7 linked regions of the Homo sapiens genome follow. The protein of the gene in region 7 interacts with the protein of the main gene of each other region in a pairwise test. Each region holds a gene or a part of one and is shown on either strand. Other genes may lie near its edges.

Region 1 (3,500 bases), on a different chromosome or scaffold from region 7:
TACCCTTTGCTCTAGATAAATATAACCTGAAATTCAAATTTCGCCATTAACCTCACTTCCCCACCCAACCTCCCAAACACCAAAATTCATTGCTTCCTGCACCCTGGTATCTATGTTAACACACACTACTTTCTTCTTCGTTTCTCAACTCTTCCTCAGGTTGTTCCAACTCTCCATTAATCCATGTTCACTAATTTTTTCACAAAACAGCCAAGTAATCTCAAGCAATTCTAAACCGTGCCTGACTTACTGAATTTCTTAGCACAAATCTGTAGTTGATTCTGTGACTCTGGACAGTTTTTTCTTTCTTTTCCTGAGACAGAGTCTTGCTCTGTCGCCCAGGCTAGAGTGCAGTGGCGCGATCTCGGCTCACTGCAACCTCAACCTCCCAGGTTCATGTGATTCTCTTGCCTCAGCCTCCCAAGTAGCTGGAATTATAGGCAAGCACCACCACATCCAGCTAATTTCTGTATTTCTAGTAGAGACGAGGTTTCACCATGTTGGCCAGGCTGGTCTAAACTCCCAACATCAGGTGATCCGTCTGGGCAGAGATTAAGAAACTGGGGGGGATGGGCACGGCAACCCACACCTGTAATCTCAGTACTCTGAGAGACTAAGGTGGGAAAATTACTTGAGGCCAGGAGTTCAAGACCAACCTGGGCAATATAGCAAGACCCTGTATGCACAAAAGATGTTTTAAAAATGAAAAAAGAAAAAAAATACTGAGGGCACTAATAATGATGAATGACTAGAACAACTGCTGAATATTCCCTATTGGGTAAATGTATATACAACTTTTTTTTTTTCTTTGAGACAATCTCACTGTCACCCAGGCTGGAGTGCAGTGGCACAATCTCAGCTCACTGCAACCTCTGCCTCCCAGGTTCATGAGATTCTTTTGCCTCAGCCTCCAGAGTAGCTAGGATTGCAGGCCTGCGCCACCAAGCCCAGCTAATTTTTGTATTTTTAATAGAGACAGGATTTCACCATGTTAGCCAGGCTAGTCTCAAACTCCTGACCTCAAGTGATTCACCTGCCTCGGCCTCCCAAAGTGATGGGATTACAGGCATGAGCCACCATGCACAGCATGTATATATAATTTATCACTGGGCAGTAAAACCTCATCAATATTTGGCACTAAACTAGGAATAGTCCTCTTTACTTTTTTCTTAGAGGATACAGGATTGATAAATGTTAAGAATTTAAAGGACTTCCCTGCTACAACATGCAAACTTCCACTTAGAAGAATTCAGGTAAAAACAAAATATGAAATTAAACAGGTATTATCAAACTTGAAAGCAAAATTTGTAATTCAAATAATCGGCTTTCAAGAGTCTGCTATGGGCTGGGCACAGTGGCTCATGCCTGTAATCTCAGCACTTTGGGAGGCTGAAGTGGGAGGGTCCCTTGAAGCCGGGAGCTCAAGACCAGCCTGGTAAAGACAGGGAGACCCGATCTCCACAAAAATTTAGCTACTCAGGCAGCTGAGGTGGGAGGATCACTTGAGCTCAGGAATTCTGGGTTACAGTGAGCTATTACTGTACCACTGCACTCCAGTTGGGACAACAAAGTAAGACCTTTTCTCTAAAAAACTTTTTTTAAACAAATAAATAATATAAATGTGATTTTAAAAATGAAGGGCGCTGGCTGGGCGCTGTGGCACGCCTGTAATCCCAGCACTTTGGGAGGCTGAGGCGGGTGGATCACCTAAGGTCGGGAGTTCGAGACCAACCTGACCAACATGGAGTAACTCTAAAAATACAAAAAATTAGCCGGGTGTGGTGGTGTGTGCCTGTAATCCCAGCTACTCAGGAGGCTGAGGCAGGAGAATCGCTTGAACCCAGGAGGCAGAGGTTGCCCTGAGCCGAGATCGCACCACTGCACTCCAGCCTGGGCAACAAGCGCAAAACTCTGTCTCAAAAAAAAAGAAAGGCATTTATCCCATTCATAAGGGTAGAGCCCTCATGGCCTAATCACCACCCAAGGGTCCTACCTCTTAATATCATCACCTTGGAGGTTAAGCTCCAGCATGTGAATTTTGGAGGGACACATATATTGTAACCATAGCAACTTCTCCTTTCTACTAGTAGCTACATTAAAAAAAAAGTCTTATGAAGCCTGCATGCTTATTTTGATTTCAAGGTACATTTTACACATTTCTCAAAAACTTAATAGTCCATTACATTTTCTGGCTAGAAATGCTCTATTGTAATCCTCACTGAATCTCTCTGAAAAACCCATCAAAATACTTTCCTGCCTCAGCAAGAATGACTTAAATATAATTTAACTTGTTACCCTTATTATGTAACCATTTTAACTTTCTGAAATGTAACTTAAGCATAATCTAATCAATCCCCTAAATAACCAGTGTGTGTGGAGACAGACAGACATGGGCCAACAACATTTTGGTCAACAATGGACTGCATATATCATGAGGGTTCCATAACACTGTAATAGTGTATTTACAGTATTACTATATTTTTCCATCTTTAGATACACACCTATTTGCCACTGTATGATAACTGCCTACAGTATTCGGTACAGTAACCTGCTGTACAGGTTTTAGCCTAGGAGTCTCTACCACATCGCCTAGGTGTATAGTAGGCTACGCTATCTAGGTTTGTGTAAGTACACCCTATGATGTTCACACAACAATATCACCCAGTGACATTTCTCAGAATGTGTCCCCATCATTAAACAACACAGGACTGTATATAAAAATTAGCAGGGGAGATTTTTTTGTTTTTCTATTAAACACATACCAGCCATTCTCTCAGACGAATAGTAATTACCGATGACTTCATACTGAATGTTGACAGCTGGCATGGAGTTTGGATGAGTCACTTCCACAGTCAGCAAAATTGCCATCAATAGGTTTACTACCTGGAAAAGATAACATTCTATCAGTTACATTAATTACCATCACGACGCAATCTTAGCACAATCTCTAGATGTCCTCTCATATTTAAGATTGTCTTACTTGAAGTAACAAAGATATAAAATAGTGGGAGACTACCTGTGAGATAAAACAATACGCAATTACCACTATGAGAATAATTTAAAAATAAATATTTTATAAAGTATAAGTAATATTAACCATTTGAGAGATAAGATGCTTAACCAATACACCAGAAAAAAATTAAAACTAAAGAATCATTACAAATGGTTCATGTTCGAAGCTACCTATTTATTCATATACCAATCTCAGAATTTCTGGATTTGAAGAAGTTACTGTTCATCTGTTATATTTATTCATCAGATGCCCGAAACCCCTCCACAGCATCTCTCATCAGGTGACAGAGAACTCACTATTTCCTCTAGAGCTAGACTCAAATGCTTAAGAGACTTACCAAGATACTGAAAGTCACTTATCTACTAGTCTTACTTTTGTGTGTGTGTGTGTATGTGTATGTGTGCGTGTGTGTGATATGGAGTCTCACTCTATTGCCCAGGGTGGAGTGCAGTGGTGCAATCTCAGCTCACTGAAGCCTCCCCTTCCT
Region 2 (4,254 bases), on a different chromosome or scaffold from region 7:
TGGGTGAGTGGGTGAATGGGTGAGTGGGTGGATGGGTGAGTGGGTGAATGGGTGAGTGGGTGGATGAGTGGATGATGGATGGATGGATGGTGGGTGAGTGGGTGAATGGGTGAGTGGATGAATGGGTGAGTGGGTGGATGAGTGGGTGATGGGTGGATGGAAGATGGAGGTCTGCATCCCTGAGTCCTCTGTGGGAATCCTCAGGTTGGGAGGCAGTCAGAGCCATAGGAGGCACTGAGTCCAGGTGGGTCGCCCATACCTAGGCCTTGTACAGACACCTACACAATCCTACACCACAGTCTTCTTCAACAGGTATTTATTAAGCACCTCCTGTGTTCCAGGCCCAATGCTGGGTATGAGGACACAGCCAGGACAAAAGCTAAGTTGCCTACACAACTGGAAGGCACCACGTAATGTCTCAAAATTAGTGAACAACTAAGACAGCTCCACTGGTGATAAGCATGAATCAGACTTGGGGCTGGGGACAGTGTCAGGAAGGCTGGTGGCCAGGCTGGAAACCCCTGACTAGGGACTGGAGGAGGAGAAGGAGCTGCCAGAAGATACAGGAAAGGTGAAGATCCCAGGGCAGGAATGTGTTTGAAGGATTCAGGACAGCAAGGTCATCTGCGCACACCCATTCCCCCACCCCGAGGAGGGGTTCACACAGACCCCCAGCATCCGCACGCATAGTACCTCTGGTCCTGGTATAGGTTGGACTCCATTCTGAACGTGGTCTCCTCCTCGTCCTCAGCCCTGCAGAGATAAAGGGAAAGGTGGAAGGGGGCGGGAGAGGAGAAAGGGGGCGGTAAAGGGAAGGAAGCGGTGTGACAGCCTCAGCCTCTGTCCCAACCTCCCAGCCGGGGCTCATGAACCCCAGGACGCAAGGAAGGGCTGGGCTGCCTGGCTCGTTGTCTTGGGGAGACGGGCGGGTGCAAGCCCGGGATCTGGGCTCTGAGAGTAGAGGTTGGAGGAGCAGCAGGGAAATGGGAGACCTTCGGACTTTGAGGCTGGTGATGGGGGTACCAGAGAGGGTTGGGAAGCTGGGGGTGGGGGCAGGGCTGTGGGGGCAGCGGGGTGGGGGCGGGCACCCACCTGGCCTTGGAACACCAGAGGCGGTTGGCCAGCAAGACCAAATAGACGATGAACAGGAAGCCGACTACCGCAGCCAGGCCCACCAGCCACGGCTTCAGGCGATGCTCCGTGGCTGCAGGAAGTTGGGGAGGTTCGACTCAGAGGAAGAAAAGGTCAGAAGACCCCCTTCCCCCACCACCCTAGCAAGGAGAGAGAGAAGGTCACTGGGGGTGCTCCGACAGAGGGGGTATTGGAAAGGGACGGAGCTTCAGAGACCTGGATGGCGTAGGGGGGTCGGGAGGGTTTAGAGAGGGGGAGGGTACCTTACCAGAGTGGGAGGGAGCCTGGGGGCCCAGAGAGGGGAGGGGCTTATAAAAGAAGGGGGGCTTAGAGGGGACGGAGTTTACAAATCAGGAGGGCTCAGAAGGGGCGGGGCTTATAATGCAGGCAGAGGCTCAGGGGGAGGGGCTTATAAAGGCGGACCTCAGAAGGGCGGGGCTTATGACAAAGGAGTGGCTCAGGGGTGGGGTTTATAAAGGAGAACAAGCTCAGGGGAGGGGCTTATGAAGGAGGAGGTGGCTCAGATGGGGAGGGCTTATAAAGAAGAGTCTGGGGGGTTGGGGCTTACAACAGAGGAGCTGTTGGGGGGAGCTTATAAAAGGAGGCAGAGGCTTAGAGGGAGGGGCTTATAAAGGAGGAGCTCAGAGGGGAGGTGCTTATAAGGGGAGAGGGTCTCAGAGTGGGAGGGGCTTATAAAGGCGGCAGAGGCTCAGGAGGAGGGGCTTATAAAGAAGGAGGAGCTCAGAGGGGAGGGGCTTACAACAGACGAGGGGCTCAGGGAGGGGTCTATAAAGGATGAGTGAGAAGGAGGGGCTTACAGAGGAGGAAGAGGCTCAGATGGGGAGGGGCTTGTGAACTAGGGGGCTCAGAGTGGGAGGGGCTTGTAGAGGAGGCAGAGGCTCAGGGGGAGGGGCTTATAAAGAAGGAGGAGCTCAGAGGGGAGGGGCTTACAGAGGAGGAGGGACTCGGGGAGGGGTTTATAAAGGAGGGAGAGTGAGAAGGAGGTGCTTACAAAGGAGGAAGGGGCTCGGATGGGGAGAGGCTTGTGAACTAGGGGGCTCAGAGGGAGAGGGGCTTATAGAGGAGGCAGAGGCTCAGGGGGAGGGGCTTATAAAGAAGGAGGAGCCCAGAGGGGAGGGGCTTACAGAGGAGGAGGGGCTCGGGGAGGGGTTTATAAAGGAGGAGGAGTGAGAAGGAGCGGTTCACAAAAGAGGCGGGGACTCAGATGGGGAGGGGCTTGTAAAGGAGGCCCGAGCTCAGAGTGGGGCCGAGCTCAAGGCGGGGGGTTCAGCCAGGTGTGCTCAGAAGGGCTGGAGAGGGGAAAGGCTCGGGTGGGCGGTGGGGGGTCCCTTACAGAGGAGGGCAGAGCCCAGCGAGAGGGAGGCCGGGCGGTACTGCGGGGGTTGAGAAGGGCCTCCAAGCCACTCTTCCTTTTCTTCCTGCCCCCTCTCCTTTTTCTCGCCATGGAAAATTGGGAGATGGTGATCACCTGACCAACTCCCCTATCCCGCGACGCCCCCTCCCGCCCCCCTGCACCTACCCTGCTGGGCCTCCACCGGGGAGAGGAGCAGAAACTCCAGCACCAGAAGGGCCCCCAGGGTCTCCATGACGGTCGAGTGAGCCAGCAGCCAGCCAGCGGCGGTCCCGGGTCGGCGTCCACAGGTTTGGTGTGGGCGAGGCCCTGCCTCCCCGTGATAAGGCACAGGCGGTCCCCGGGCGGGGGATGCCTGAGACCTGGGAGCGGGGCCCGCCCCTGGCACCACCTGATTGGGCATCCTGCCCCTCCCCTGCCAGCTCCTGCCCCATCGCTCTCCCTCCGGGAGGCCAGACTCTGGACCTGTGTAACAATTAACTGAGGGAGTCCCTCCTCCCTGCACCCTGCCCTGGGGACCATCAGCCTCAGGGCCACCCCTTTGTGATCCCTGCTGCAGGGGCTGAGCTGAGATGGCTGCGACCTCCCGTCCCGGCCCAGGCCCCGTGCCACTCTGGACACAGGGGGAACTCACAAATACAACTGGAATATCTTAAGAAGGGTGCGCCCACCCAGTGCCTCACACCTGTAATCCCACTACATTGAGAGGCCAACGCGGGCAGATCCTTGAGCCTAACCTGGGCAACTTAGTCAAGCCCTACCTCTACAAAAATAGAAAAATTAGCCAGGCGCGGCGGGCACCTGCAGGCCCAGCTACTAGGGTGTGCTGAAGTGGGAGGATCACTTGAGCCCAGGAGTTTGAGGCTGCAGCCAGTTATGGCCGCACCACCGCACTCCAGCCTGGGTGACAGAGGAAGACCCTGTCTCAAAGGAAATAAAAAAAATTAGAAATACAAAGAGTTACCAAGGCTGGGTACAGTGTCTCACGCCTGTAATCCCAGCACTCTGGGAGGCTAAGGCGGGAGAATCGCTTGAGGCCAGGAGTTCCAGACCAACCTCCTCCCGTCTCTAAAATAAAAAATGTAAAACTTAGCTGAGCATGGTGGCCTGCACCTGTAGTCTCAGCTACTCAAAGAGACTGAGGTGAGAGGATCGCTTGAGCCCAGGAGTTCGAGGCTGCAGCGAGCTACGACTGCACCACTGCATGCACCACCGCACTCCAGCCTGGGCAACAGAACAAGACCTTGTCTCTCAAAGCAAATTTGAGAGTCACCTTTTGTGCTCTCAGAGTACACATGAGGCTCCGTGCTCGGCAATTTCACAGATCGCATTTCCTTTTCTTAACACCCCGTGAAATGGTGCCGGTCTCATTGTGCCCAGGAAAGTCAAGGTCACGCAGCAGGTCTGACCTGGGATTTGAAGCCGGGTCTGCCTCGCCCCCAGCTTATCCTGCCTCGCCCAGGCTCTTGGCCCCTGAGGACCCACAAGCAGCCATGGGAGCACACAGGGACAGGGAAGGTGTGCAGAGGCCACATGCCCGTGGTCCACCTGCAAACCGGGACGCTCTCACGTGGGGATGCCCGGGAGCGTTGATGACTCAGGCTCCAGGCTCTCCTGTCCTCAACCTTGGTCCCTCGGCTGATTAGATAGTGGGCCCTGCCCGGGCGAAGGGGGACCCCGCCCCAGCTGACACGGGAGCAGCCATGGCCCAGACGAGTGGTAGGAAGGCCCGGCGTCATCGCACAGGTGTT
Region 3 (3,500 bases), on a different chromosome or scaffold from region 7:
CCATTCTCCAGCTCCGCTCAAACAGGTACAGCAAGAGATTTCTACGGCTGCCCATCAGGAGACAGAGGACTCAGGGAAAAAGCTCACAGAGAACCAAGCAAGGCTGGGTGTGGCAGCTCACACCTGTAATCCCAGCACTTTGGGAGGCCGAGGCAGACGATCACTTGAGGTCAGGAGTTTGAGACCAGCCTGGCCAACATGGCGAAACCCCGTCTCTACTAAAAATACAAAAACTAGCCGGGCGTAGTGGCGTGTGCCTGTAGTCCCAGCTATTTTGGAGGCTAAGGTGGGAGAATCGCTTGAACTTGGGAGGTGGAAATTGTGGTGAGCTGAGATAGTCCACTGCACTCCAGCCTGGGCGACATAGTGAGACCCTGTCTCAAAAAAAAAAAAAAAAAGAGCCAGGCAAGCAGAAAGATGACAACAATTATTAACTTCTCGAAAACAAGAGGACGGACAATGCTATGGTTTGAATGTTTGTCCTGGCCAAAACTCATGCTGATTCTCCCACCTCAGCCTCCCAAGTAGCTGGGACTACTGATGTACTCTAGTACTCCCCACTCCCAGTGAAACTTAATCCCCAATGTGCCAGTACTGAGAGATGAGGCTTTTAAGAGGTGACTGGGTCATGAGGACCCTCCCCTCAGGAACTGATTAACCCATTCATGGATTAGTGGTTTAATGGATTAATGAGTTATCATGGGAGTAGAAGTGGTAGTCTTATTTTTTATTACTATTGTTTTTTCAGAGACGTGGACTTGCTCTGTCGCCCAGGCTGGAAAGCTGTAGTGCAATCACAGCTCACTGCATCCTTGACCTCCCAGGTTCAAGCGATCCTCCCACCTCAGCCTCCCATGTAGCTGGAACCACAGGTGCTCACCACCATACCTGGCTATTAATTTTTGTAGCAACGAAGTCTCATTATGTTGCCCACACTGTTCTTTGAATTTTATCTATTTTTTTTTTTTTTGAGACGGAGACGGAGTCTTGCTGTGTCACCAGGCTGGAGTGCAATGGCGTGATCTCAGCTCAATGCAACCTCCGCCTCCTGGATTCAAGCGATTCTCCTGCCTCAGCCTCCCAAGTAGCTGGGACTACAGGAGCATGCTACTACACCCAGCTAATTTTTGTATTTTTAGTAGAGACGGGGTTTCACCGTGTTGGCCAGGATGGTCTCTATCTCTTGACCTTGTGATTCACCCGCCTCGGCCTCCCAAAGTCCTGGGATTACAGGCGTGAGCCACTGTGCCCGGCCTCTATCTATCTTTTTGAGACAGGTTCTCGGTCTGTCACCCAGGCTGGAGTGCAGTGGTGTGATTCTGGCTCACTGCAACCTCCACCTCCTGGGCTCAAGCGATCCTCCCACCTCAGCCTCCTGAGCAGCTGGGACTACAGGCACACGCCCAGCTAGTTTTTGTGTCTTTTTTGGTAGAGACAGGGTTTTGTCATGTTTCCCAGGCTGGTCTCAAACTCCTGGGCTCAAGCAATCTGCCCACCTTGTCTCCCAAAGTGCTAGGATTACAGGCATGAACCACTGCACCCAGCCCACAAATTATTTTTGAGTGTCTACTTCTATCAGGCCCCTACTGTGCAAAAGTCAACCCTGGCCCTTCCCCCTTGGTGAAGGACGTCTCCTCCTCTCCAAGAGTCCCTGTCTCCAGCTGCTTTTTCTGGCCAATTTCTCTCTGGTCCCTGAGCCTCCGTGGGTCTCCCTTCCTCCGTGGGTATCCCTGCTTAGTGTCCACAGGGCTCTTTCAGGCTGGGTGGGGCTTGAGCCTGCCCTGCCAATCCCACCCTCTTTGAGCACAGGCTTCCTGCCTGCCCTCCTGGACTTGGGATTTGTCCGCCACATTAGCCTGGGGGCTCCCAGGATGCTGGCCTCCTGGACAGTGGGTCCTGGCTGCAGGGGAGCGACTTACTCCGGGACATGTGGACTGTGGCAAGCCGGCGGTACAGGGCCTTCTGCCGGGGGTCTGGGTGGAAGCCACTCTTGGTGAAGTAAACGTGGATGTAGATGGAGCCGTTCTGCTGGACGCTCTGCAAAAGACGGAAGGTCAGGTGGGCAGGCTGGGCAACTGGGGTGAGGGAAACGTTAAAGCCCTGCCTGGCACCCATCTGCAGCAGTTTCCTCCCCCTCAACTCTCTGGCCATTTACTGAGTACTCAGGGTGGGGCATGTAGCTGGGTGGCAGAGAGGTAAATGCTGGAGTCAGACAGACTCAGACGCCCGCTCTACCTGCCATGGCCGTGTGAGCTCAGCTTCTCTCTGAGCCTCAGGGCCCCACCTAGAGGATGCGAAGTTCCCACAGCACTGACCCGAGGGCACCACTGCAGGGACTACCTGGAGCACTGGCACACAGCTCAGTCAACGAGCTCTCGTTAAGCTCACTCAACAGGAAGAAGCAGCTGACCGACATGGAGCTCCTACTATGGGCCAGACCCTGCCCTGGGCACTTCAGACAACAGCTTCCTAATCTAACGAGTTAACACACATATAACATGTCAACCTTATGCAATGGGTCATGTTACCACCCCATTTTGCAGATGAGGCAAACGGGGCTCATGCCAAGGGGTCACATAGTGTGTGGCAAGTACGCAGATGGAAACCCAGTCTGTGGGCTCCTGGGTGCTACTCCCTGCTACCTCCAGCTGGCCCCTCTCTGCCCAAGTCTTCCTCATTATCTCATCAAGTCTCCTTGCCTCCCAGGGAAGGGGGACTATTCTCACTTGATCCAGATGAGGAAACTGAGGCTTCAAGAAGGGAGGCAAGTTGTCCAGGGGCACTGGGTGGAGACAAAGGCGAGCACTGAACCTCTCTGATCCTTGTGCAGAGCTCGAATTCAGTTGGCCACATTGTGTTCTCCTCACTCTCCCTATCTTTTTTAGAGATGGGGTCTTCCTGTGTTGCCCAGGCTGGAGTGCACTGGCTATTTGCAGTTGCGATCATGGCACACTACAGTCTTAAACTCCTGGGCTCTGGCCATTCTCCCACCTCAGCCTCCTGAGTAGCTGTGCCTACAGGCACATGCCACTGTGCCCAGCTCTCCTGCCTTTTAAGTCCACTTGGACCCCACCCTGAAGCTTCGACTTAGATCCAAGCCCTTGGAAGCAGATCCCCCTGCTGGGCCTGCCAGGCCCTGGTCCTTCCTTGGATCTCGTGGCAAGGCCTGGGGGCTGGGCTTGAGGTCTCTGTGGGAGTCACCTCTCAGTGCAGGTCAGAAAGTCCAGCCAGGTGGGGTGGTTCATGCCTGTAATTCCAGCACTTTGAGAGGCTGAGGTGAGAGGATCGCTTGAGCAGAGGAGTTTGAGACCAGCCTGGGAAACATGTTGAGACCCCATCTCTACAAAAAATTAGCTGGGCATGGTGGTGCATGCCTGTTGTCCCAGCTACTTGGGAGGCTGAGGTGAAAAGATTGCTTGAGCCCAGGAGGTTGAGGCTGCAGTGAGCTGTAATTGCACCACTGCACTTCAGCCTAGGCAACAGAGCAAGACCCCATCTCA
Region 4 (4,192 bases), on a different chromosome or scaffold from region 7:
ATGAAAGCAGAAAATTTCCAAAAACTTTTGGCCTACTTAACTGCCCTGACAGCACATAGTTATTTTGTTTGGGAAAGGAGGGGGTGGACTGTTTCTTTCCAAAGGAACCATAATTAGTTGGCCACTTCAAATAGTATCAAAGAGATTTGGAAAACAGTTACTTTTCTAAATTTTTTAATGAGGCCAAGACATCTGATTTCCAGCGATTCTTAATATTAACAAGCTCCTGCAAAGCCCCTTAAAAATCACTATCATAATCTCTACCACTCAACAGGAACACACGGGGAAAAAACTACTCTGGCCTTTTACACACTTCGGGGCTTCTTTTACAGAGAATGACTTCACTGATCTGACTGGAAGTCCCGTTTCCCCAGGTCTCACCCTGGATTTGCACTCCTTTGAGTGCTGCACCGGTTTCTATATTTACGCACAAACCAGCTGCGGCCACCTTCCTTCGCAATTCCCAAACCTGCCTTTCACTGTACAGGATCCCTGGAGGTCCAATTCTGTTTTCTGGAGTCAAAGAAATACAAAATAATTTCACTACCTCCCAGAAAACAGACTTTGGTAAGTTTCAATATAAAATAGACAGCTCTTGAACCCAGGAGGCAAAGGTTGCAATGAGCCAAGATCTCGACACTGCACTCCAGCCTGGGCGACAGAGCAAGACTCCGCCTCAAAAATAAACAAATAAATAAAATAAAATAGACAGCTGTGTATTTTTGGTCCTAGCACCAATAAATTTCAGGGCTGGGAAAAATCATAAATTACCAAAGCATTCCTCTTCATATAACCAAAATATATTTTTCCTGTTGCTCAGGAAATTAAGACAAAATAGCCAACTAACACTTACGCAGCCTTACACGGAGAAACTCAAAGCTGGCAGGAAAGGACTAGAGATTTTTTTTTTTTTTTTTTTGAGACAGAGTCTCGCTCTGTCGCCCAGGCTGGAGTGCAGTGGCGCAGCCTCGGCTCACTGCAAGCTCCACCTCCCGGGTTCACGCCATTCTCCTGCCTCAGCCTCCCGTGTAGCTGGGATTACAGGCGCCCGCCACCACGCCCGGCTTATTTTTTATATTTTTAGTAGAGACGGGGTTTCACCGTGTTAGTCAGGATGGTCTCGATCTCCTGACCTCGTGATCCGTCCGCCTCGGCCTCCCAAAGTGCTGGGATTACAGGTGTGAGCCACCGCACCAGGCCAGGTCTAGAGATCTTTGATCTACAATCAACAAATAGTATGGGACTCCTTTCAGCGAATCCAATGCCCCACATGAATGTTTGGATGCTGGTTCTCCTTTAATAACTTCCCCCTATTAAATCTCTTACCAGTCATTTGGGGTTTGGGTTTCACCCTAGGGATACAAGGTGTTTGTAAGTCACTCTGAAACCTCTGAAGGGCAAAGTGTTGTGGACGCTATAATCTCCCTGCATACTGAGGGGGGCATAGCTCCCAACCAGTCATTAAATCCCGTCAAATGAGATACTCGAAAATGAGCTGCCCTTGGGTGGGTCCTTTCATAAAAAGGAATTTTTAAAAATCTGCTAACATGGTTACTCCACAAAGTTTACATGTATCATATTGTATAAATCTATAAATATGTACAATTATTTTTTGTTTAATTTCTAAAAATTTGCCAACAATGGCTGAAAAAGGCACCTGGCTGCCTGAGCCCCTACCCTTGTCGGTTACAAGTATTTCATAAGCAGGGTTTGAGGAATCCCATCAGAGAAGAGTGTTGTCACCTTTTTGCCGGAATGTCACACCAACTTCCTCAGTGTTCCCCTCACACCAACTTCCTCAGTGTTCCCCCTACCCCAATCTAGCCAACGTTTCAATGGCTCCCCACAGCACACAGTGCCTCTCAGGTGGGCACTCAAGGGTCCTTTCCTAATCCTCCCTAACCTAATTCTCCAAACTTTTTTTCCCCCAAAACAGCCCAGCAGACGGTCCAGTCAGTCCCCAAATCGTTTTTCCTCATGGTCTCCTTCCCCAGGGGTCCTCCCCTCCTTCTCTCCCCCCTGCAACCTCCACTGCTACCGGGAGATTAGTTCCCACCCGTCAGGACCCCGCTCAGATTTCACTTCCTCCAACAGGTCCGCTCAGATCCCAATCCACGGCTCTCAACAGCAGCCGGGATTCCTTTCCCCCGCAACGCCTTCTCTGAACACCCCGGCCTCCGAGCGCCGGCTTTGCGTTCCCTAGTTACTTCCAGTCACTAGTTACTTCCGCTCCGCTCCCACCCGCGGGACTCGCGACCTGCCCCCTGCCCCCGGCTGGCCCAGCTCGGAATAGGCAGAGCAGCGCCTCAGAAATCGCAGCCCAAGGCGAAGAAATCCAGAAGCCTCCCGCGGACGTCCCCCGGGACGGGGTGTGGCGAGCCCCGCTCCGAGCCCGCCGACTCCTCGTGAGACGAGAACCGCAGCGACGCGGAGACCCTGTGAGTCCACCGCCGAGACGCGCGGCGCGGCGACCAGGAGCCCCAGAGTAGCCGCGGGGCGCCGGGAGGGATCCAGCTGGCGGCAGCAGCTTCCCTGCCTCCCTGCCCCTCCCCAGGGGCTGCGCGAACCCCTGCCTGAGCCAGGCCAGCCCGGGTGCCCCCCAGTTCTCAGGGCGCTCCCCAGGGAGCCCGGGGACGCGCCCTGTCCGTGCCTGATCCCCGCCCTGGTCCCAGCTGGGTCGGGCCAGGTCCGCTGCACCTCACCTCTCCTCTCCACGAACCGACTGGATAACGGTCGGGTCTGAACCTGAGGAGCCCGGACCAGCCCGCAGTAGACTTGCCGCACCTGTCTCAGAGCAAGTGAGGAGCAGCCGGGCGCCTGACGTCACGGCCGCTCCCAGCGCCGCGAACCGGGAGTCACCTGATCACCCTGGCAACGCGCGCGGCGCGGGGCGAGGCGAGGCTTGCGTCACAGCACGAGCCCCGCCCCCAACTGCTCGGCCTCCAAGCGCCGCCGGAAGCGCTCTCTTGCAGTCGGCGCAGTCGGGAGGCGGGGTCGGTCTCCGACTTCCCAACGTGGGCCTCCCAGCTGCGCTGGATACTTAGGACTCCCACAGGCGTCCCCCTCAGATTGGATTGGTTCTCCGAGACTCCACCCGATACCCCAACTCCGCTAGTTCAGGCGCCTGGGAGGCAAGACCAGCGTCCATGCGGAACCCTGCTCAGTGCGTGGCATGAGGGGTCGGCTGTGGGCTGCTGCCTCCTCGTGTCTTGTTGGTCCAGACCCAACTAGGGTTGGGGGCTTACTTCCCGAGCTGTACCTGAGCGGAATGGGGCTGAGGCTGATAACTGGATTGCTCTCTGGCTACTTTTCCCCATAAACCTTGCAACAAGTAGTCCCGCCAGTACTTTAGAGTGTAATGAGACTTCATTCACATCAGGAGGGGGAAGGGGGACAGAATCTTCTGTCCTGAAGGTTTCCTTCTTCTGTTCCAACAGGAAGAGAAGTTACCGAAAAGCTCCCAGAGCAAGGCCTAGAATGAGCTTGCAAGTCCTACTTGCAAAAAATTTTTTATTTTTCATTTTAGAAATTGATTTTCTCTCCATATTCCTCCCCTTGCTTGCTATTAGGTTGGTGCAAAAGTAATTGTGGTTTTTGCATTTTTTTTTTAAATGGCAAAAACAGCAATTACTTTTGCACCACTCTAATATAAGTATATGCCTACAACTTTTGTTACTCTCTAGGCTTCCCAGATAAGACTATCAGCTTCGAAATGAAAATTTAACATCCCCTGGAGGTCTCAGTGTGAGAGTCACTGCCTATTTCACACCTTCACTATTTGCTGACTTTCATTTCAGTTTTACTCTCCTCATCCCTGCACTGCCAAGAAGGTTTCATATGTATTGAAACCTTCCCTCTCAAGAGTTTAGGATCTTAGACCAAGAAGTTAGTTTATAGTCAACTTCTTGTGAGCATCTTTTAGTGTCAGGCAATGGGCCATGGGCAGATTGAGATGTGGTTCTCGAAGATCAAACGTGTATGGGTGGTATGTCTCACATAAGTACAACTTGTACTGTTTATTATGACTTAATCATTGTATTTAAGTGGCACTTTTTAATTTTCACACTTAAAGAAACTCATATAAGTGGGAAAGAAGACAGCTGTGAAAGGTAGAGAAGAACCATGGCTCTAGACAGAGCTGTACTAATAGGAGAGAAGAGATTGAAAATGTGAGCCCAGGTCCCAAGGAGCA
Region 5 (3,500 bases), on a different chromosome or scaffold from region 7:
AAGTGGGGGAAGAAGCTGAGGGTGGGTGGCCGGTGTCCCCTAAAGCCGCGGGGACAGAAGGCGGGCTGCTCTGCCCCCAGGTCTTATCGGCTTTCATAGGAGGAATGGGTTTTGTTCAGTCCCGGGTAGAGAAGACATTGCCATTTACTGAGATCCAGCTGCATATGACACAGAAGAGGACGTGGTGCTCTGTGAGGTCCTGAGCTTCGAGGTTTGGACAAGGACTGGTGGGTGCCATTAACAGGGGGCAGATTCGGACGGGTATAAGAATGAAGTTGGTTATCCAGCCTGGCAGGGGCTATGGGAGAGGGAGCCCGCCATTCAAGGGGTGCAAGGGGAGGCAGAGACAACCTGCCGGGAAGGCACCTGGCGAGAGCAGGGTCTCCCCAACTCCACACTTCCTGGTCCAGTTCCTTTATTGTTCAAATTTAAAATATGTTTGTGGCCAGGCACGGCGGCTCATGCCTGTAATCCTAGCATTTTGGAAGGCCGAGGAGGGCGGATCACTTGAGACCAGGAGTTCGAGACCAGCCCGACCCACATGGCGAAATCCTGTCTCTACTAAAAAGAGAAAAATTAGCCGGGCATGGTGGTGTGTGCCTATAGTCCCAGCTACTTGGGGAAGAAGCGCTTGAACCCAGGAGGTGGACGGTGCAGGGAGCTGAGAGCTGAGGTCGCACCACTGCACTCCTGCCTGGGCGACAGAGTGAGGCTCTGCCTCAACAACAACAAAAAAAGTGTTTATTCAGGCTGCTCTCCCTATGGAATAGCCATTCTTTATTTCTTAACTTTGTTAATAAACTTGTTTTCACTTGTTTAAAAAAAAAAAAGTGTTTGTGGCCGGGCGCAGTGGCTCATGCTTGTAATCCCAGCACTTTGGGAGGCCGAGGCGGGCGAATCACTTGAGGTCAGAAGTTCGAGACCAGCCTGGCCAACATGGTGAAACCTCATCTCTACTAAAAATACAAAAATTAGCTGGGCTTGGTGGCACATGCCTGTAATCCCAGCTACTCGGGAAGCTGAGGCATGAAAATCGCTTGAACCTGGGAGGTGGAGGTTGCAGTGAGCTAAGATTGTGCCACTGCACTCCAGCCTGGGCGACAGAGCAAGACTCTGTCTCAACAACAACAACAAAAAAGTGTTCATTTCAGAAGAGGGTGTCAGAGTGTGGGGACCACAGCAAGAAGTACCTTTGAGGGGGTATGGGAAATGACCTCTGACCCCCACGCTGACCCGAAATCCTCCATGAGGAAGACCACGAAGGCAAGCACAGAGGGTCACTGAGGGGGTCACCGAACAGAAGGTTTGCTGATGTAAGAGGAGGAGGCTTTGGAGGAAGCCAGTGGCCGGGATGGTGGGAGCCCACACTCAATTCCCTGAGAAAGTGCAGCACCAGCCTCAGTGGTCGCTGCTGTATGGGGTCTTCCTGCTTCCACCAGCTACCCCATGACCTTCAGGCTCTCTGCAGCCCAGGCCTGCCAGTGTGCCTCAGTGTGCCTTTCGTGCTGCTGGTCCCTGGGGGCCACTCTCCTCTGCTCTGCAGCTGGGCCCTGCACCCTCAGCACATCAGGGCTGGATCGCTGGGACCCAGGGGCTCCCCATGGGCCAGAAGCCTCCAGGACCCCAGAAAAAGTCTGTGTTTCTGGATCCTCTTGGCAGAATGACTCGAGGCTCTGTCTTACTGGACCCAGTGGCTGGGCAGTGTTTCAGGCCAGGCTGCGTGGGACGGATCCACCTGGAGGGGTTGCTGGAGCCAGAGAATCAGCGGTGGGCACTGGGACCGCTCCAATCTCCCACAGGGACGGCAGGATGTGAGGCCCGGGGCTGCAGCACTCACCACCCCACGGGGTTGATCTTGTACCAGAACTTTTTCTGTTCGATCATGTCCTTGCACTCTGTCCCTTGGTGGGGGGATTCCTGGGTTAAAATGTTAGAAATGACATCTCCAAGGTGCTCGGGACAACAGACAAAGCCCCACAGGTCCCAGCTGGAGCAGGGAGGTCCCTGGACATCTCATTCTCATGGCAGGTAAGGAACGGGAAGCCCCGACGTGGGCACAGCCAGGGGTCCCTGGACATAGCCGCAGCGCTGAGCCCTGAGGGACAGGTCGTGGCTCCGTCATCCACAGACATAGTTCAGGCACCGCCTTGTTGGCTGCCTGGGGTGGAACCACTTCCTGGGGCTGCAGTGGGTTAATGCCAGGCCACGCGCTGGGCTGGAGAGGTTTTTCCTCAGAGCCTGGGTTTTTCCTCTCTCCTCCCCTCTGCCAATCTGGCCAGCACTCCGAGAGTCGCACGAGGCTCCCGTCCCCCAGACTGCGGCTGGCGCTCAGCTATTTGTCCTTTTTTCCCAACTCTCCGCTTTTCCTTGTCAACGGCCTGAGGTCCAAGGCAGCCCCAAGGCCCAGCATGTGCTCTCCCTTCCAGCCCTGCTGCTGGCTCTTCTAGAGGCTGGGCTGGGACCCTGGAGACCTGGGGCTGGCTCGGACCCACCTGGGCTGTGCAGAGACGGATGGGGGCAAGGCCAGGGACAGATGCCACAACGGCCGGCAATGGTCCCACGAAGTGCCCTTGAGAGGTCTGGGCAAAGCCAGGGCTGGGTTCTCACTGATCCTGTGCCTCAGTGGGTCACCGCAGCCTGGGTCTCCCTTTCCCCATCTGGAAATGAGACTGACATCATGACAATTCCTTCTGGCTCAGCCCATGACTTCAAAGAGCCGTCCATTAAACCCTGGCGTGCCCATCAACAGGCCTTTTCTCACACGCGCTGTCCTTCCCTACAAAGTCCTGTTTCCAGCCCCAGGCCACTTTCTCCTTAAAGGGTGACACCTGTGGGCGGGCACCCAGGGAGCTTGGCATGCAGGCTGAGGCAGGGATGAAACGGGCCTGGTGTGGTGGCTCACACTTATAATCCTAGCACTTTGGAGGCCAACGTGGGCAGATCACGAGGTCAGGAGTTCGAGACCGGCCTGGCCAACATGGGAAAACCCCATCTCTACTAAAAATACAAAAAATTAGCTGGATGTGGTGGCACACACCTGTAATCCCAGCTACTCAGGAGGCTGAAGCATGAGAACCACTTGAACCCGGGAGGCATAGGTTGCAGTGAGCCTGGGCGACACAGTGAGATTCCGTCTCAAAAAGGAAAAAGAAAGAGGCCCGTAGGAACGGAGAAACTGAAGGAACCGTGGCCCTCTCACCAAGAGACAAGCACCCTTTTCTCGAATGCCCTGGGGGGCGGGGTCGGCTGGAGGAGAAATATCCCACAGGAGCTTTTTTCTGAAGATGCAAAACATCCACCCAGAGCCAGAGCCAGGCCTGAGACAGGGCGTGCCAAGTCCTCCACAACATCCCAGGACAAGGGTGGCCCTGCCCACCCTACGTCCACTCACCAGGACGCCCTGCCTGGCCCCCTTCCCAAAGCACCACTGGGAGGCTCTGGACTCCGGGAGAAGCTTCTGGAATGTCTGAGAACCAAACCAGTTTTCAATCAAACCTTTT
Region 6 (3,500 bases), on a different chromosome or scaffold from region 7:
TCATGATGGCAGAAAGGGGAAATGCCAAGCAAAAGGGGGAAAGGGCCCTTATAAAACCATCAGATCTTGTGAGAACTTACTATCACAAGAACAGCATGAAGGTAACTGCCCCTGTGATTAAATTACCTCCCACCTGGTCCCTCCCACAACACGTGGGGATGATGGGAATGACAACTCAAGGTGAGATTTGGATACGGACACAGAGCCAAATCCTATCAGACAGAATCTGAGAATGTCTTATTGGTTTAAGAGACATATACTTTAGAAAGCTGAGCTTCAACACAAATCCTCAAACTCTTCCAAAAAACTGAAGAGGAGGGAACCCTTCAAACTCATTTTATGGAGCCTGCATTACCCTGATACCAAAGCCAAAGACACTACAAGAAAACTGCAGAGCAATGTCCCTGATGAGTACTGATGTGAAAATCCTCGACAAAATACTAGCAAACAGAATTCAACAGCACATTAAAAGGATTATAGATCACCACCAACCAGTATTCCTGGACTGTGAGGATGGTTCAATACATGAAAATTAATCAATGTAATCAGCACATTTACAGAATGTTGGGGGAAAAAGAAACATGATCATCTCAACTGATGCAGAAAAAGCTTTTGACAAAATTCCACAACCTTCATGATAAAAACACTCAATAAAGTAGGAATTGAAAGAAACTACCTCAACATATTAAAGGCCATTTTTCCACGGTAGTAGTTCTATGCAAACCGACCCCCAAATTCCAAGAAAGCTGAGAGGCTGGCAAATCCATTTTCTTAGAAAAAAACATTTAATAGGGACATAAGAACAGAAGCCATCTCTGTGTCTCTGTCTCAGGCAGAGAAAAGATAGTGGATCTACGGGCCATAAATCCCCTGACCTAGGGCTTATATACCAGAGGGAAAGGGTGATTCAGAAGGGATTGTAGGACAACTGAAGGAAGACAACATCAAGGTTGTTTTGACCTAAGGACAGGATTTATGGTAAGTACATGCTCTTATACAAGGAACCACAGATAAATTGGAAATCTTAGAGGGTTTCCTGGAACTGGGGTTAGTCAGAAGTCAACAAGGCAGATTAGCAACCAAGATGGAATTACTTTGGCCTCCACAGCCATATATGAAAAGCCCAGCACTAATGTCTTACTCAGTGGTGAAAAGCTGAAAACTTTTCATCTAAGATCAGGAATAAGACAAGGACGTTTGCTTTTGCCATTTCTATTCAACATAGTACAGGAAGTCCTCGCCAGAACAATTGGGCAAGAAAAAGAAATAAAAGGCATCCATATTGGAAAGAAAGGAGTAAAATTATCTCTGTTCACAAACATGACCTTACATGTAGAAAACCCTAAAGATTCCATAAACTGTTAGAATAAATGAATTCAGCAAAGATTCAAGATACAAAATTAAAATGCAAAATTAGTTACATTTTTATACACTAACAATGAGAAGGTTGGAAAGAAAGTTAAGAAAACAATTCCATTTACAACAGCATCAAAAGGAATAAAATGCTTAGGAATAAACCTAACCAAGAAGACAAATTTGAAAACTACAAAACACTGATGAAAGAAATTAAAGACAAAAATAAATGGAAACACATCCATCATTATACATTGGAAAACCGATGTTCATACTACCCAAAGTAACCTACTTTGGGTAGATTTAATGCAATCCCTATCAAAATCCCAATGGCATCTTTCACAGAAATAGAAAATCCATTCTAAAATGTATATGGAATGTCAGGGGACCCCAAATTGCCAAAACAATATCTAAAAAAAACAACAAAGTTGGAGATCTCACATTCCTGATTTCAAAACTTATTACAAAGCCACAGTAATCAAAACAGTGTGGTACTAACATAAAGACAGAGACATACAGACCAATGGAATACAACAGAGCTCCAATAATAAATCCTGGTATATATGATCCTTTTTTTTTTTTTTTTCAGACACGGTCTCCCTCTGTTGCCTAGGCTGGAGTGCAGTGGCACAATCACAGCTTGCTGCAGCCTCGACCTCCCAGGCTCAAGTGATTCTCCCACCTTGGCCTCCAAAAGTGTTAGGATTACAGGCGTGAACCACTGCACCCAACCTTGTGAATCTTCTTTAGTGGGGTATGTGTTCAAGTCTTTTGCTGTATTTTATTCAGGCTATTTGTCTTCTTATCGTTTAGAGTTCTTTTGTATATTTTGGATAACAGTCCTTTATTAGATATATCTTTTGCAAATATTTTCTCCCAGTATGTAGTCTATCTTATTTTCTTGACTTCTTCACTTTAAAATCAGGTTGTTTTTTGTTATTGAATGGTAGGATTTCCTTATGTATTCTGGATATTAGCCTCTTACAGGATATATCATTTGCAAATATTTTCACCCATTTTATGGGCCTTTTCACTCTGTTGAATGTGTTCTTTGATACACAGAAGTTTTAAATTTTGATGTCATCCATCTATTTTTACTTCTGTTGCCTGTTTTTGGTGTCACGCCCAAGAAATCCATTGCCAAATCCAATGTCCTCCTATGTTTTTATCTAAGAGTTTTATAGTTTTAGGTCTTACATTTAGGACTTCGATCTTTTTTGAGGTAATTTTTGTATACAGTTTAAGGTAAGCATCTAATTTCATTCTTTTGAATGTGGATATTCAATTTTCCCAACACCATTTGTTGAAGAGACTGCCCTTTTCTCATTTGATTGGCTGGGCACAGTGGCTTATGCCTGTAATCCCGGCACTTTCGGAGGCCAAGGTGGGTGGATCACTTGAGCCCACGAGTTTGAGACCAGCCTGACTAACATGACGAAACCTGTCTCTTCTAAAAATATAAAAAATTAGCTAGGCATGGTGGCATGTGCCTGTAGTTCCAGCTACTCAGGAGGCCGAGATGGGAGGATCACTTGAGCCTGGGACATTGAGGCTGCAGTGAGTTGTGACTGTACCACTGCACTCCAGTCTGAGAGACAGAGTGATACTTTGTCTCAAAAAAAAAAAAAAAAAAAAGAAAAAGAAAAAGAAAAAGGAAGAAGAAACACAAATGGCAAATAAGTATATGAAAAGATGCTCAACATTATAAGTCATTAGAGAATTACAAGTTAAAGCAACAAGGAGATGCCACTACACACCTATTAAATGGTCAAAATCTAAAACACTGATATCATCAAATGCTGACGAGTATGTGGAACCAACAAGAACTCTCATTCATTGCTGGTGGAAGTGCAAAATAGTACAGCCACTTTGTAAGACAGCTTGGTGATGTCTTATGAAACTAAACATTCTCTTACTATACAACACGGCAATTGTGCTGCTTGGTATTTACCCAAATGAGTTGAAAACTTATGTCCACACAAAAACCTGCACATGGATGTTTACAAAGCAGCTTTATTGACAAAACTTGGAAGCAGGCAAGATTTCCTTCAGTAGGTGAATGAATAAACTGTAATGCATCCAAACAATGGAATAGTATTCAGCACTAAAGAAAAATGAGCTATCAAGCCATGCAAAGACATGTAGAA
Region 7 (3,500 bases):
AAGAGTGGTAGGAAACCACTGGTGGCTTTGAGCAGGGGTGGACTTGACCCAACTCCAGTCTGAACTGGGTCCCTCTGGCTGCTGTGATGAGCGGCCCTGGGGGTGCAGAGTGGAGGCATGTTCAGTTCTCTGAGGCCAGGGATGCTGTTTACCTCTGGTCAAGCATCACCAGGCTAAAGACCTGTGAATGAGGACCTCCCTCGAGGCATTGGAGTGAACTCCTTGCCTTTTATCTTTTAGAAGCTAGATGAGGTGTGGTCCTTAACAGAAGGCTCAGCTTGGCTTCTCTATCAGGGCTGAGAGCTCCAGGAGGCAGAGAGACTGTGTTGCACCCATGAGACGGGTGAGGGGCACTCTCATTTGGACCCTCACACTGGCTGAGTGAGATGATACAAGATTTCCATAAATAGCCAGTATCTGGGGACAAGGGTCAAGCTGACATCGTGTCTGTGACCCCAGAGGCCTTTATAGTGAGCTGGTGTGTCACAGGGTTACTTGCATTTCAGTGCTGGGGGTAACCCATGCAGAGCAGATGATGGTGGTTATTAAGGATCTGAGCTTCTTTCCAATGAAGCCAAATTCTTTGATCATTCTCAATAGGGAGAGGGCTTTCTGGGCCTTCAGGTGGTCGAGAACCCCACAGCAGCCTGCCAGCGTGAAACAAGGGCTCGCTTCCCTCATTCTCAGCCTCTGAGACTATTATGAAAGGTGTTTTGGTTAAAACTGTATTGGAAACAAATATTAAATTGAGGATTAGAAATCTGTTTTGTTAGTTTGAGAACTACTACTAGAGGGATTATGTTTATTGAGTGCTTTCTGTGTTTCAGGCACTGAACTAGAATGGATACTATCATATAATAAATAAAAAGCCAACTTTAAAATTCTGTGGTCACAGTGGACATTTGACATACATCAGCTCTAAGTCTCATGATGATCTATAAGCTGGGTGTCATTATTCCCATTTTACAGCCCAGGAAACCAAGCTGAGATTCAAAAAGCCCATTCTTTCCCCTGTTCAATGGAGTCTTCTTGAATATGTCATCGTCAACTCCCCAAATCTCTTGAGACTCAGTTTACTTATCTAAAAATGAAAAAGTTAGATAAGACAAACTTCCAGGCCCCACCAGCTCTAATAGTCCAAGCATGACCCACCATGGCCTCTCACAGTAACTCAGGGAACGAAGCCCCCATCCACCACCCACACCCTCTTTGTACTTCCTTTCCAGACCTGCACTGGTTAAACATCATAATCATGTGTGTTGGCCGAATGGGAATCACCATTGCAATACAAATGATCTGCCTGGTGAATGCTGAGCTGTACCCCACATTCGTCAGGTGAGTGCATGGAACAGGGGTAGCCAGTGAAATGGCTGTGAACCCACCAGCTCAGTGGGAACCAACATCTCCAAGGTGCTTCCTAAAGATGCAGCCAAGCATTGCTCAGTTTGGACATTGAGTGGCATTGTTAAGAAATCACGTTCAGAGAGATGGGGTTAAGCATCAAGAGAGGGTCAACCCATAATTATAGCAGAGAATGTGAAAGGGGACCCTGTGAGCTGATGGATGGGGTCAAAGTTGTTCTGTACATACAACAAGTACAAGAACAAAAGGTGTAGAGAAGTGGGTACTGGACAGGGACTTGGGAAACCTGTGTTGTAGCCCTGTCCTTGGCACTAATTGATTGTATAAACATCAGCCATTTCATTGACACTTCTGGGCATCATTTTCTTAAACAGCTGACATTTGTATAGTGATACGCGAGTATTTCCATACATGTGATTCCCTTAAATTTGTTCTTGGGTATGATCATCCCCATATTACATATGAGGAAGCTGTGATTTAGAAAGGGAAAGAAGCGTTGTAGGGGTCAGACAGCTAGAAAGAAGCAGGGCTGGGGCAAGGACCACATCTTCCTGACCTGGAACCCTGTGGTTTTTCCATTATGGCACATTACTGTTCTGTAAACTGAGGAACTTTTCAAAATTGTGGTAAAATATACATAATATGAAATTTACTATCTTAGCCACTTTTAAGTGTACAGTTGAGTAGTGTTAAGTACCTTCACACAACCAAGCTCCAGAACTCTTCATCTTGCAAAACGGAAACTCTGTACTCATTAAACAGTAACTCCCCATACTCTCCACCCTCCAGCTCCTGACAACCGCCTGTCTACTTTCTGTTTCTATGAGTTTGGTTACTTTAGGTACCTCATATAAGTGGAATCATATAGTATTTGTCTTTGTATGACTGGCTTAGATCACTTAGTGTGATGGCCTCAAGGTTCATGTATGTTGTAGCATGTGCCAAAATTGTCTTCTTTTTAAAGGCTGAGTAATATTCCATTGTACATATATACCACATTTTGTTTATCCATTCATCTGTCAATGGACACTTGGGATGCTCCACTTCTTGGCTATTGTGAATAATACTGCTATGGACATGAATGTACAAATATCTCTTCAAGATATCTTTCAATTCTTTGGGGTGGAATATCCAAAAGTGGAATTACTGGATCATAATCTAATTCTATTATTAGTTTTTTGAAGGAACGGCTGTATTTTTTTTCCATAACGGCTACACTATTTTACATTCCCACCAACAGTTCACAAAGGTTCCAATTCCTCCACATCCTTGCCAACACTTGTTAATTTCTGTTGGTCTTTTTGATAGTAGCCATCCTAATGGGTTTGAAGTGTTATCTCATTGTGGTTTTGATTTCTCTGATGATTAATTATGTTGATCATCTTTTCATGTGCTTGTTGGCTATTTGTGTATTTTCTTTGGAGAAATGTCTACTCAAGTCCTTTCCCCATTTTTGAACTGGTTTTGTTGTTCTTGAGTTGTAGCAATGGTTTATATAATCTGGAGATTAACTCTTTATCAGGTACAAAATCTGCAAATATTTCAGCCCATTCCATAGGTTACCTTTTCATTCTGTTGATTGTGACCTTTGATGCACAGAAGTTTTTGATTGTGATGTAGTCTAATTTATCTCTTTTTACTTTTGTTGCCTTTTCTTTTGGTGCTGAAGAACTTTTTTTTTTTTAATCAAGTTTATTGAGGTACAATTGACAGAGTAAAATTCACTGCTTCTAACATGCAGTTAGATTAGTTTGACGACACACACACACACATACACTCACACACACGTATATATAGTCATTTAGCCACTGCCATGATGAAAATAGAGAATATTTCCATCACCCCCAAAAGGTTCTTCATGTCTCTTTGCAGTTAATACCCTTTTCTTCTCACCTCCAGACCATGCAGTTTTAGCTTTTCCAGAATGAGCTGTAAATGTAATAATAGGGCACGTCACCTTTTGTGTTTGGCTTCCTTCACTTAGCATGATGAAACTCACCCACTTGTTGGATGTATCAGTGTTTTGCTTGTTGTTGCTGTATAGTACTCCAGCATGTGAATGTCAGTGTGCCACAATTCATACACTGTTTAGCTATTCACCACTTGAGGGACATTTGAACGGCTTCCTTCAGAGGGAT

What was found.
Region 1: the proteins of SLC22A1 (region 7) and LAPTM4A interact in a protein complementation assay, tested with the Homo sapiens proteins (one large-scale study listed by BioGRID).
Region 2: the proteins of SLC22A1 (region 7) and SMIM24 interact in a protein complementation assay, tested with the Homo sapiens proteins (one large-scale study listed by BioGRID).
Region 3: the proteins of SLC22A1 (region 7) and CLPTM1 interact in a protein complementation assay, tested with the Homo sapiens proteins (one large-scale study listed by BioGRID).
Region 4: the proteins of SLC22A1 (region 7) and CYSTM1 interact in a protein complementation assay, tested with the Homo sapiens proteins (one large-scale study listed by BioGRID).
Region 5: the proteins of SLC22A1 (region 7) and CHST12 interact in a protein complementation assay, tested with the Homo sapiens proteins (one large-scale study listed by BioGRID).
Region 6: the proteins of SLC22A1 (region 7) and TMBIM4 interact in a protein complementation assay, tested with the Homo sapiens proteins (one large-scale study listed by BioGRID).

Annotation. Positions count from the first base shown.
Region 1 is NC_000002.12:20,038,129-20,041,628, forward strand, and holds part of LAPTM4A (lysosomal-associated transmembrane protein 4A), read right to left. Parts: intron 2,884-3,500; coding exon 2,763-2,883; intron 1-2,762. UniProt on the Homo sapiens protein: May function in the transport of nucleosides and/or nucleoside derivatives between the cytosol and the lumen of an intracellular membrane-bound compartment.
Region 2 is NC_000019.10:3,477,726-3,481,979, forward strand, and holds the start of SMIM24 (small integral membrane protein 24 precursor), read right to left. Parts: upstream 2,801-4,254; 5' UTR 2,739-2,800; coding exon 2,672-2,738; intron 1,205-2,671; coding exon 1,093-1,204; intron 754-1,092; coding exon 694-753; intron 1-693.
Region 3 is NC_000019.10:44,975,880-44,979,379, reverse strand, and holds part of CLPTM1 (putative lipid scramblase CLPTM1), read right to left. Parts: intron 2,038-3,500; coding exon 1,920-2,037; intron 1-1,919. UniProt on the Homo sapiens protein: Involved in GABAergic but not glutamatergic transmission. Binds and traps GABAA receptors in the endoplasmic reticulum (ER).
Region 4 is NC_000005.10:140,173,796-140,177,987, reverse strand, and holds the start of CYSTM1 (cysteine-rich and transmembrane domain-containing protein 1), read right to left. Parts: upstream 2,801-4,192; 5' UTR 2,703-2,800; intron 1-2,702.
Region 5 is NC_000007.14:2,445,111-2,448,610, reverse strand, and holds the end of CHST12 (carbohydrate sulfotransferase 12), read right to left. Parts: 3' UTR 127-3,500; downstream 1-126. UniProt on the Homo sapiens protein: Catalyzes the transfer of sulfate to position 4 of the N-acetylgalactosamine (GalNAc) residue of chondroitin and desulfated dermatan sulfate.
Region 6 is NC_000012.12:66,163,497-66,166,996, forward strand, and holds part of TMBIM4 (protein lifeguard 4), read right to left. Parts: intron 1-3,500.
Region 7 is NC_000006.12:160,142,315-160,145,814, forward strand, and holds part of SLC22A1 (solute carrier family 22 member 1), read left to right. Parts: intron 1-1,226; coding exon 1,227-1,335; intron 1,336-3,500. UniProt on the Homo sapiens protein: Electrogenic voltage-dependent transporter that mediates the transport of a variety of organic cations such as endogenous bioactive amines, cationic drugs and xenobiotics. Functions as a pH- and Na(+)-independent, bidirectional transporter.